Regions from separate parts of the Homo sapiens genome. Here region 1 is linked to region 2. Evidence: fine-mapped expression QTL. Tissue or cell type: unexposed skin. Region 2 holds a variant in brackets; the other region holds the start of a gene. All regions are shown on one strand. Distances are from middle to middle.

Region 1 (5,371 bases), 33 kb before region 2:
AGGCAGAGGTTGCAGTGAGCCGGGATCACGCCACTGCTCTCCAGCCTGGGTGACAGAGCAAAACTCTGTCTCAAAAAAAAAAAAAAAAAGGTGTCAGCCTGGCATGTGGAGAACGACCCACAGGAACGAGGGCGTGCATTGGGACATCAGTGACGAGGCTGTTGTGGGAATAGGGTAGTGTGGTTTGGGGAGTGTAGAGCTGGCAAGCCCTTATGACCACCTGAGTTGTGGTTCTGAGAAGCATGGAAGCATCCAGAGCTCAGGATGATGCCAAGTCTGCAGCCTGGGGGATCAGGTGGATGGCAGAGTCATTGTGAAAAGGGAGGACCCTCACTTTCTGACCCTTCTCCACAGTGCCAGCATGGGTCATTGCTGACCAGGCCTTGCCATCCTGCCCCTAATGGCTGTGGTTCCTAACACATGCAGGGCCTGTGGGGTTGAAGCACCAAGGAACCCCTCTTGAGGACAGGGCTACCCTTCCAGGGGCCCATGGTCACCGGATGCTGCTGGGCTGGCAAGACATTTAGACTGTGGCCAGAGTCCAAGGTGGCCCAGCACCTCTTGATCCTTCTCTTCCTCCACATAACCTTTGACTGGACTTCTGCCCGTCCCTAGGCCTGCAGAAGAGTCTCTGGTCTCCCACGCTGGGTTTTCACCAGATGGGTCTTCACTGATCTTCTGTTGGGTCACGGGTGAAGGTGGGGGAGGCAGGGGCTTTGGGAGTGGGAGTTCTGAGCCAGGGCCTTAGCGGGAGATGGCTGGACCTTAAGAGAGGGTGGGGCTGGTCACAGTGGCACACATCTGTAATCTCAGCACTTTGGGAGGCTGAGGCAGGTGGATCACTTAAGGCCAGGAGTTCAAGACTGGCCTGGGCAACATAGTGAGACCCCAACTCTACAAAAAATAAAAAACTAGCTGAGCTTGGAGGTGTACACTTGTAGTCCCAGCTACTCAGGAGGCTGAGGTGGGAAGGATTGCTTGAGCCTGAGAGGTCAAGGATGCAGTGAGCCGTGATTGTGCTACTGCACTTGGGTGACAGAGAGACCCTTTCTCAAAAAAAAAAAAAAAAAAAAAAAAAAAAGGAAAGAAAAGAAAAAGGGGCCGGGCACAGTAGCTCACGCCTGTAATCCCAGCACTTTGGGAGGCCGAGGCAGGTGGATCACCTGAGGTTGGGAGTTCAAGACCAGCCTGACTAACATGGAGAAACCCCGTCTCTACTAAAAATACAAAATTAGCCAGGGTGGTGGCGCATGCCTGCAATCCCAGCTACTCGGGAGGCTGAGGCAGGAGAATTGCTTGAATCCGGGAGACGGAGGTTACGGTGAGCCAAGATTGCACCATTGCACTCCAGCCTGGGCAACAAGAGCGAAACTCTGTCTCAAAAAAAAAAAAAAAAAGAAAAAGAAAAAGAAAAAAGAAAGAGGGAGGGTGGTGGTAGCCCAGTCACCAACATGTTTCACTATAAGAACTCGAGAAGGGCAGGGCAAGATAGTGGCTTCATAGCCAGGTCAGCTGCTTACCAAGAAGAAGGAAGGAAGGGGCAGGACAAATTTCTTGGGACCAGGTGGGATGACCAGGGTGCAGCTGCCCCTTCGAAGGGGTGGGTGTGTGGAGGATCAAGACCTCTATTTCCCAAATACTCTCGTCCCTCTATCCCACAGTGACCTATGGTGCTGGCATATAACCAGCTGTCAGGTCTTTGCCCACTCTGTTCGCCCCTGCTTCCTGGCGCAGGGAGTCCATGTCCTCTCTGGTTCCCCAGGTTTGCGAGAGTGGAGGGGGACCACGAGCTCCCGATGCCTCTCCTGCTCTGCAGGGGAACTTGCAGATGGCCCATGGCGCAGGGTCGAGACTCAAGCCCACTCCCAACCCCGCGCCCGAACTGCCCGGACTGGCGGGGTGACGCTGCACTCTGCGCCCCTAAAACGAACAGATTAACCCCTCTCTTGGGAACTGAACATGCTGACCTGGCCTCTCCCGGTTCCCCCCGCATCTGTAACCCCGGGGCAGAGTTACAGGGGCTGACTGGCCGCACCCAGGTGCCCTCGGGGCAGGGTGTGCTAAGAATTGGTGTGGGGGCTGCACAAAGGTCCTGGTCAGCTCCTGGTCACCTGAGGCCCAAGAACTGTCCGGGACTCACTTCCTCTCTTCTTGCTTTAACCGGGGTCGCTCAGCAGCGGCCAGCGCTGCACCCCTTATCCTCTCCCGGTCTTGTCCGTTCCAGATCCTCCAGGTCAGGGGGTCGCCAAGTGAGAGCTGCGCAGCGTGGATTTCGGGTACCCAGGGCTGGGCGGGGTACAGCAGCGGCGAGCTGGGTTCCCGGGTGGGCGACTGACAGCCCGGAGCCAGGCGATACCTCGATCCATCGATGCGCTCGGCGCTCAGCGTGGTCCAGGAAGCAGGGGGTTGGGCAAGGGCGGGGCGGCGACCTCCGACTGGGAGGGGCGTATATGGCGGCGAGTCCCTATTGGCCAGCCATTTGCGGGAGGCGGGCCCTGATTGGCCGGGGGGATGCGGGGGATGCGGGCGGCGGGGTTAAGCGCGTCGCCACCGCCCCCGCCTAGGCGAGAGCCCAGAGAGCTGAACCTGCATCCCGGACCTGCGGCGACCGTCGTACACCATGGGCCTCCACCTCCGCCCCTACCGTGTGGGGCTGCTCCCGGATGGCCTCCTGTTCCTCTTGCTGCTGCTAATGCTGCTCGCGGACCCAGCGCTCCCGGCCGGACGTCACCCCCCAGTGGTGCTGGGTGAGGCACGGGTCTCGTGGTGGATCTGTCGGTCGGGCGGGACGGGCCGCGGGCGGGGCTGCCTTCCCGGTCTGCTTCTGTTCCAGTCACGAAATGGGGGAGCGTATTGGTATCTGTCTTGTCACTTAGGTGATCTAGATCTGCCGGCTCACCTCCCGCCATGCTGGGCGCGGGTGTGGTCAGCTCCCCACCTCCTGTCCTGGTAGAAAATGGGGGTGAGTGGGAGAGTTACCATCTGGTTATTCATAGTTCCACCTGTCCGCATCATTCCCAAGCCTTGCCTCCCCTTATCCCATTTTTAAGCTGGAAAGACAGGTGCTTCAGCCCCACTCCTGAGGGATGGTGGGGGTGTGTAGAGTGGCTCCTGAGTTGACTTCTGCATCGACCTGGGCCTGGTTAGGAGGCTGTCACCCTCGACCCCTCCAATGCCACATATGCCAGAAGGCATTGCTGAAAGGAACCTCCTTAGGGAAAGGATTGCTGTCCTAGCTGGCCACCAACTCCCACAACTTATCAGATGTGTGGCATTGCCTGAGGGAAAAGGCCTAAGGGAAACTGAAGACAACTGAAGTCAGGGGAAAGGGTTGGGACAATGGCCATGAACCTGTGTCAGGCAACATGCTTGTACTCTTACCCTGCCACACATGCTTGGACTAGACTATGTGGAGGCTCGGTGACCTCCCCTGCTCACCCCGCTCCTTGATCACAACCCTGGCAACTCTACAACGGCCACTGTATTTCCTTGCAGGGATGGGCAGGGATGAGACCTCTGTCTGGGGGGCCTTGGGTGCCTCATTGAGGCCGTCACTCCCATCCAGAGCTGGTGTGTCCGTGGCCAGCCAGGATTCCTGAAAGCAGAGGCATCTGAGGCATGAATTACACGTGGAGTCTAGTGCAGCATGATCTCCATGCTCTTTCTGCTGAGAGTACTTTAAATGGGGACGATGCAAATCACAGAAGGGTAGAGTTGGCAGGTAGGGTGGTGCCAGGCAGGCCCCACCAGGAGTTCCCAGCCAGGAAAAGCTCCAGGGGGATACTAGGCCCAGGTTCACCATGGGATTTGGGCAGACTTGGCCCTGCCTCCCCAAAGCTTGCAGGATAGGAATAACAGTGATCCCCAGAGAGGAAGTCTGTGTGGGGCAAGCACAGAGAATCCACCAACCCAGCCTGGATGGGTGGGTGTCAAGTAAGGCTTCCTGGAGTATATAGCTGGAGCTAAGGCCAGGAGAGAGTAATGGGTCGGGGAGAGACGTGAGCATCTCAGGCTGCCTGGGATCGAGTCACAGGAGGAGTGGACTGCACAGGACTTGTGACTGGTTGGGTCATCTGAACTTTATCTTGAGGGCCTCAGGGAGTCCTGGGTTGGCCTGCAGAGTTCTAAGTCTGAGGGGCGTGGCATTAGGAAGCATGTGGTCTGTGGCACACAAAATGGCACATAGCCATTTTGCCTGGATTGATGCTAACCGCACTCATCAATTCAGTCAGTCTGTTTATCCTTGGTCACAGCAGAAGAGCCTCAGACCCCACCCAGAATCACAGAGCAGCAGGAGTCCTAACATGCCCAGCTTCTCAGGGAGTGAGGCTGCTGGCCTTAGCCCTGGGAGACCTCACGGTGGGCAGTTGGATAAGCAGCTCCTGGGCACAGAGCAGGGATCTGACCTTGACTGTCAGAAGATCAGAATCCTCTAGGGGTGGATCCTGAAATGGTGGTGGAGGAAAGAGAGACCAGCGATGTGATACAGAAGACCCTGGGCAAGGGGAAGGGACCATAGGCAAGGCCATTTCCACCTCTTGCAGCCTCAGTCTCCCCATCTGTTAAGTGGAAATAGTAAGGCTGTCCCCTCCCAGTGTTACTTGAGGTGAAAGGCATGTGGATGGCTCTTTTCCTAGTTCCAGGCGCAGATGGGCTCAGGAAGTGGCCACTGCTATTTTTAGGGGCCACACAGCCTGACCAGGGTAAGGAGCATCTGAGCAAAGCAGATCTGGTGACTTCCTCTTTTACCATTTCCCCTTTGGTAGAGACAGTGACCAGGGTCTCTGCCCTGCCCTGCCCAGTCCACAGGCATGTCATCCAGAGGCTGTCATGACAGGGACTCCCTCCCTCTGCACCCATACCATGAAGGGAGGTGAAGGCATGTGCCGCCCCTGCCTCTCATGGCACCCTGAAGACACTGGGATGGTGCCCAGGGAGGGCACGCCCTGTTCAGGGTGGATTTACGGTCAGTTCCCAGTGAATGTCCAGGAGAGCCAAGTGCTGGTTTTTCACTCAATGATCATGGACCCTAAACGGGGATGTGTTTGGGAAGTGGCGAGAGCATGGCATGTGGGGGCAGGTGAGGCCCGAAAGGTCAATGGGAGTAACGAGACTGTGAAGGGCTTTGACGCAGTGGGGAGGGATTTGGGTGTCACCAGGGCCCCAGAGTTCTGAGTACACTGAATAGGATGGCTGGGATGGAGAGAAGTCACCCTAGGGCCTGGACTGTGGTGATAATGGTGCTGGTTCAGGGTGGCTGTTTCCAATACGGGCTCCCAGCCATGCTAGGGCCCTCCAGATGATCTGCTCTCTGGCACCTTACTGGACTCTGGCCTTTAGTAAGGCCTGGGCCCTTGGTAGGCTGGCGGGT
Region 2 (5,371 bases):
AGCTCTGCCTGCGGCCACATTTGAGTTTCTGCAGATAGAACCTGAGAGATCTCAGTTGATCCCTCTTTATTTTCCTTTTTCTCTTATGGGGTAGTAAGGAGAAAAGATTGCTGTGAATTTACCCAGCCTTGCAGAACTAGTGTTTTAAATGAGAAAGACCCAGAATTCTATGTTCCTTAGCACTGTACTGCCAGAGGTACTTAATAATATTCTGTTCTTTCCACATCTCTGCTTGCAAAAGCATTGGCAGTATATGCAGTTTATCCAGTGTTAAAAATAGCCTGAGAGTACCTTGGAGTTAGCAATAAAGGACTGTAGAATACCCATGCCTCTTGACTTTATGGAATTTGTTAAAGACAAATTAAAGGGAAAACGCTCCATATTCCTTGGGATAGTGAGGGGGAAACGGATACCCTTAGGATTAGGGAAGGCGGCTGCTCAGCTGTATGTCTGATAGGCTTTGGCTAGGGAGACTCTGGTCTGACTGAGCTTTCTAAAAAAGGGAATAATTTTCTGATTATAAAATATGTTTATTAGGCCAGGCATGGTGGCTGACGCCTGTAATCCCAGCACTTTGGGAGGCTGAGGTAGGAGGATTGCTTGAGCTCAGGAATTTGAGACCAACCTGGGCAACATGGTGAGACCCTGTCTCTACAAAAAATCAAATTAGCTGGGCATGTTGGTGTGTGCCTGTGGTCCCAGCAATTCAGGAGGCTGAGATGGGAGGATCTCTTGAGCCCGGGAAGTCGAGGCTGCAGTGAGCTATGATCACGCCACTGCACTCCAGCCTGGGTAACGGAGCAAGACCCTGTCTCCAAACAAAACAAAACAAAAAAAAAACCTCACAAAGCATGTTTATTTAGAAAATTAAATTACTCTTAAGTCATCCAAAATCTACCACCAAAAGAAGAGTACTTTTTTTTTTGAGATAGAGTCTTGCTCTGTCACCCAGGCTGGAGTACAATGGCATGATCTCAGCTCACTGCAACCTCTGCCTCCTGGGTTCAAATGATTCTCTTGCCTCAGCCTCCCGAGTAGCCAGGATTACAGGCGCCCACCACCACGCCCAGCTAATTTTTGTATTTTTAGTAGAGAGGGGGTTTCACCATGTTGGTCAAGCTGGTCGAGAAGAGTACTTTTATTTATTTATTTATTTATTTATTTATTTATTTGAGACGGAGTCTTGCTCTGTCGCCCAGGCTGGAATGCAGTGGCGCTATCTCGACTCACACCATTCTCCTGCCTCAGCCTCCCGAGTAGCCCGGACTACAGTAGGCGCCCGCCACCGTGCCCGGCTAATTTTTTGTATTTTTAGTAGAGATGGGGTTTCACCGTGTTAGCCAGGATGGTCTCGATGTCCTGACCTCGTGATCCGCCCGCCTCGGCCTCCCAAAGTGCTGGGATTACAGGTGTGAGCCACGGCGCCCGGCCTTGTATTATTTTTTAATTAAAAAAAATTTTTTTTGAGATGGAGTTTCGCTCTTGCTGCCCAGGCTAGAGTGCAATGGCATTATCTCAGCTCATCGCAACCTCGGCCTCCTGGGTTCAAGCGATTCTCCTGACTCAGCCTCCCGAATAGCTGGGATTTCAGGCATGTGCCACCACACCTGGCTAATTTTGTATTTTTAGTAGAGACAGGGTTTCTCCATGTTGGTCAGGCTGGTCTTGAACTCCTGACCTCAGGTGATCTGCCCACCCGGCCTCCCAAAGTGCTGGGATTATAGGTGTGAGCCCCCATGCCTGGCCTATTATTATTATTATTATTATTTTTCTTTTTTGAGACCGAGTCTTGCTCTGTCGCCTAGGCTGGAGTACAGTGGCTCGATCTCTGCTCACTGCAACCTCTGGCTCACTGCATCCTCCACCTCCCGGGTTCAAGAGATTCTCCTGCCTCAGCCTCCCGAGTAGCTGGGAATATAGGTGCGCACCACCATGCCCAGCTAATTTTTGTATTTTTAGTACAGACGGGGTTTCACCATGTTGGTCAGGATGGTCTTGATCTCTTGACCTCGTGATCCGCCTGCTTTGGCCTCCCAAAGTGCTGGGATTACAGGCATGAGCCACCATGCCCAGCCATAAATACCTTTTGAGGTCATCTTTTCTTGTAGGTTGTATACTGCTTTATAATTTTTTTTTTTTTTTTATTGATCATTCTTGGGTGTTTCTCGCAGAGGGGGATTTGGCAGGGTCATAGGACAATAGTGGAGGGAAGGTCAGCAGATAAACAAGTGAACAAAGGTCTCTGGTTTTCCTAGGCAGAGGACCCTGCGGCCTTTTTTTTTTTTTGCAGTGTTTGTGTCCCTGGGTACTTGAGATTAGGGAGTGGTGATGACTCTTAACGAGCATGCTGCCTTCAAGCATCTGTTTAACAAAGCACATCTTGCAC[T/C]GCCCTTAATCCATTTAACCCTGAGTGGACACAGCACATGTTTCAGAGAGCACCGGGTTGGGGGTAAGGTCATAGATCAACAGCATCCCAAGGCAGAAGAATTTTTCTTAGTACAGAACAAAATGGAGTCTCCTATGTCTACTTCTTTCTACACAGACATAGCAACAATCTGATTTCGCTATCTTTTCCCCACATTTCCCCCTTTTCTATTCGACAAAACCGCCATCGTCATCATGGCCCGCTCTCAATGAGCTGTTGGGTACACCTCCCAGACGGGGTGGCGGCCGGGCAGAGGGGCTCCTCACTTCCCAGAAGGGGCGGCCGGGCAGAGGCGCCCCCCACCTCCCGGACAGGGCGGCTGCCGGGCGGAGGCGCCCCCCACCTCCCTCCCGGACAGGGCGGCTGGCCGGGCAGGGGCTGCCCCCCACCTCCCTCCTGGATGGGGCGGCTGACTGCTTTATAAAATTAAAAAAAAAATTAATATTGGCTGGGCATGGTAGCTCATGGCTTTTGTAATTCCAGCACTTTGGGAGGCTGAGGAGGGAGGATCACTTGAGCACAGGAGTTTGAGACCAGCCTGGGCAACAAAGCAAGACCCCACCTCTAAAAAAAAAAAAAATTAGGCATGGTGGCAGTGGCAGTGGTGTGCATCTGTAATCCTAGCTACTCGGGAGCCTGAGGAGGGAGGATCCCTTGAGCCCAGAAATTCAAGGTTGCAGTGAGCTATGATCATGCCACTGCACTCCAGCCTAGGTGACAGAATGAGACTTTGTCTCAAAAAAAATTTCATATTTAATCTCTTTCATCAAATACTCTTAGAAAACATGGTTTGAAGATACATAAGCAATCTCCAGGCAGTATAGTATAGTGGTTAGGATTGCAGGCCTCCATGCCAGACTGGATTTAATTTTCAGCTTTATCATTGACCAACTGTTGATCTTGGGGAGTTAACTAATTGCTGCCTCGATTTTCTCTTTTATTTTTATTTTTTGAGACAGAGTCTTGCTTTGTTGCCCAGGCTGGAGGGCAGTGGCTCAATCTTGGCTCACTGCAACCTCCACCTCCCAGGTTCAAGTGATTCTCCTGCCTCAGCCTCCCAAGTAGCTGGGATTACAGGTGCAAGCTACCATGCCTGGCTAATTTTTATATTTTTAGTAGAGATGCGGTTTTACCATATTGGCCATACTGGTCTCGAACTCCTGAGCTCAAGTGATCTGCCCACCTTGGCCTCCCAGAGTGCTGGGATCATAGGTGTGAGCCTGTAAGTGTGGGCCCGCCAGCCTCTTTCATTCAACATGTACTTTCATCCAGATTCCTCGGGATCTGAATTCCTGCAGGCTTTCTATCCTAGAAGCACTGGCTTTTCCAGAATCTAGGCCTGAGGGCAAGAACTTGCTTGTCATAGTAGTGGCCAAGTCATAAAACCATATTCTCTTCCGACTAGGGTAGGCTTTAGGGTTCAGCTTACTTCCCTTCTTGGAACTTAGGTTGCAGTATCAGGCTTTCAACAGAGCTAGGATATGCTGAGTCTCCTTGAGTAGAGGCGGCAGTGGGAACAACGTGGTTTCAGGAGACATAAATTGCACGAAACCAATTAGGTTATTTAGGGGAAAGAAATGAAAGGTCTGCACTGAATCTAGGGTAAGACTTCGGTAGGATAGGAGAATTAAGTTGGTCTTGAAATTGAGGCATGAGAGGGGTCCGGCTTGTTGGTTGGGAGACTGCCTAAACAAGTTATAGCCACGCCATTCTAGACACTTCCATCCTAGAAGGGAGGGCCCAGGAAGTCTGTATATAACCAACTCTAGGGCAGAGGCTGCCAGCTGGTGGCCCGTGAGCCAGACTTGGGCCCCAGAGATAGATTTGTTTGGTTTGTGGTGTTGTAAATAATTTTGAATTAGTTGCCAACATTTGAAAATCAGGACTTGCCTTTTCTCTTGAAAAATCAAAAGTTCAGGCATCATTGGACCCAAATTCCTGCCCGATAAAATAAGCTGGATTTCAGTAGTCGTAGCTTCTTTAAAAAAAAAAAAAATTTCTTTTTTGTTTATTTAAAAGGAGTATCCCTATGTTGCCCAGGCTGGTCTCAAACTCCTGGCTCAAGTGATGCTCCTGCCTCAGCCTCTCCAAGTGTTGGGATTACAGGCATGAGCCTCTGTGGAGGGCTCTGGCTCCTTTTTTTTTTTTGAGACAGAGTCTTGCTCTGTCACCCAGGCTGGAGTGCAGTGGCGCGATCTCGGCTCACTGCAAGCTCCGCCTCCCAGGTTCACGCCATTCTCCTGCGTCAGCCTCCTGAGTGCTGGGACAACAGGTGCCTGCCACCACGCCTGGCTAATTTTTTGTATTTTTAGTGGAGATGGGGTTTCACCATGTTAGCCAGGATGGTCTTGATGTCCTGACCTCGTGATCCGCCCACCTCGGCCTCCCAAAGTGCTGGGATTACAGGCGTGACCCACGGCGCCCAGCCGGCTGTGGCTCCTTTTAAATGGAGTATGGACTCCCCAGTCCACTGTAGTCCTCCACTTCTTGTATTATCCCCAGACTTTCTTGCCTTTGCTCACTCATATTACTTTCCTGGCCTCTGAAGGCACTGCACTTTCAGATCCTGGCTTTCTGGCTGTACCCCATCCCCTTCCCAGGTTATACTGGCAAGGAGATCCAAGCAGCTTTTTGCAGATTTCAGGCTATTTTATTTTACCTACTAATTATCCTAGAACAGTGGTTCTCAGCCAGAGGGGAGTTTATCTTCCAGGAGACATTTAGCAATATCTGGAGACACTTTTGGTTGTCACAACTCCTGGAAGGGGGTGCTTTTTGCTTCTAATGGTAGAGGTCGGGGTGCTGCTGAACATACCACCATGCACAGAACAGCTTCTCACAATAAAGACTTACTTGGCCTAAAATGTCAATAGTGCTGAGGTTGAGAAACTCTGTCTTAAGGGTGCACTCTGTTCATATGTGTTCTGGGGTTTTGGAATCTTATGT

The links. PIP is the estimated chance that this variant, and not a neighbour inherited with it, causes the effect.
Region 1: it holds the start of PLA2G15, and the variant in region 2 is the best candidate, but not a certain one, in a credible set for the expression of PLA2G15 in unexposed skin (GTEx, PIP 0.52).

The regions. Positions count from the first base shown.
Region 1 is chr16:68,242,807-68,248,177 of GRCh38, forward strand. PLA2G15 (phospholipase A2 group XV) reads left to right here and starts at 2,567. Exons shown (of 6, transcript NM_012320.4): 1 at 2,567-2,747. The coding sequence starts at 2,621. RefSeq lists enhancers at 1,373-1,911, 3,033-3,533 and a silencer at 2,387-2,616.
Region 2 is chr16:68,276,180-68,281,550 of GRCh38, forward strand. All of the region lies in intron 3 of SLC7A6 (solute carrier family 7 member 6), which reads left to right. Among named protein-coding and RNA genes, the nearest start is that of SLC7A6, 14 kb to the left of the region's middle. The variant T/C (reference allele first, on the strand shown) is at 2,387.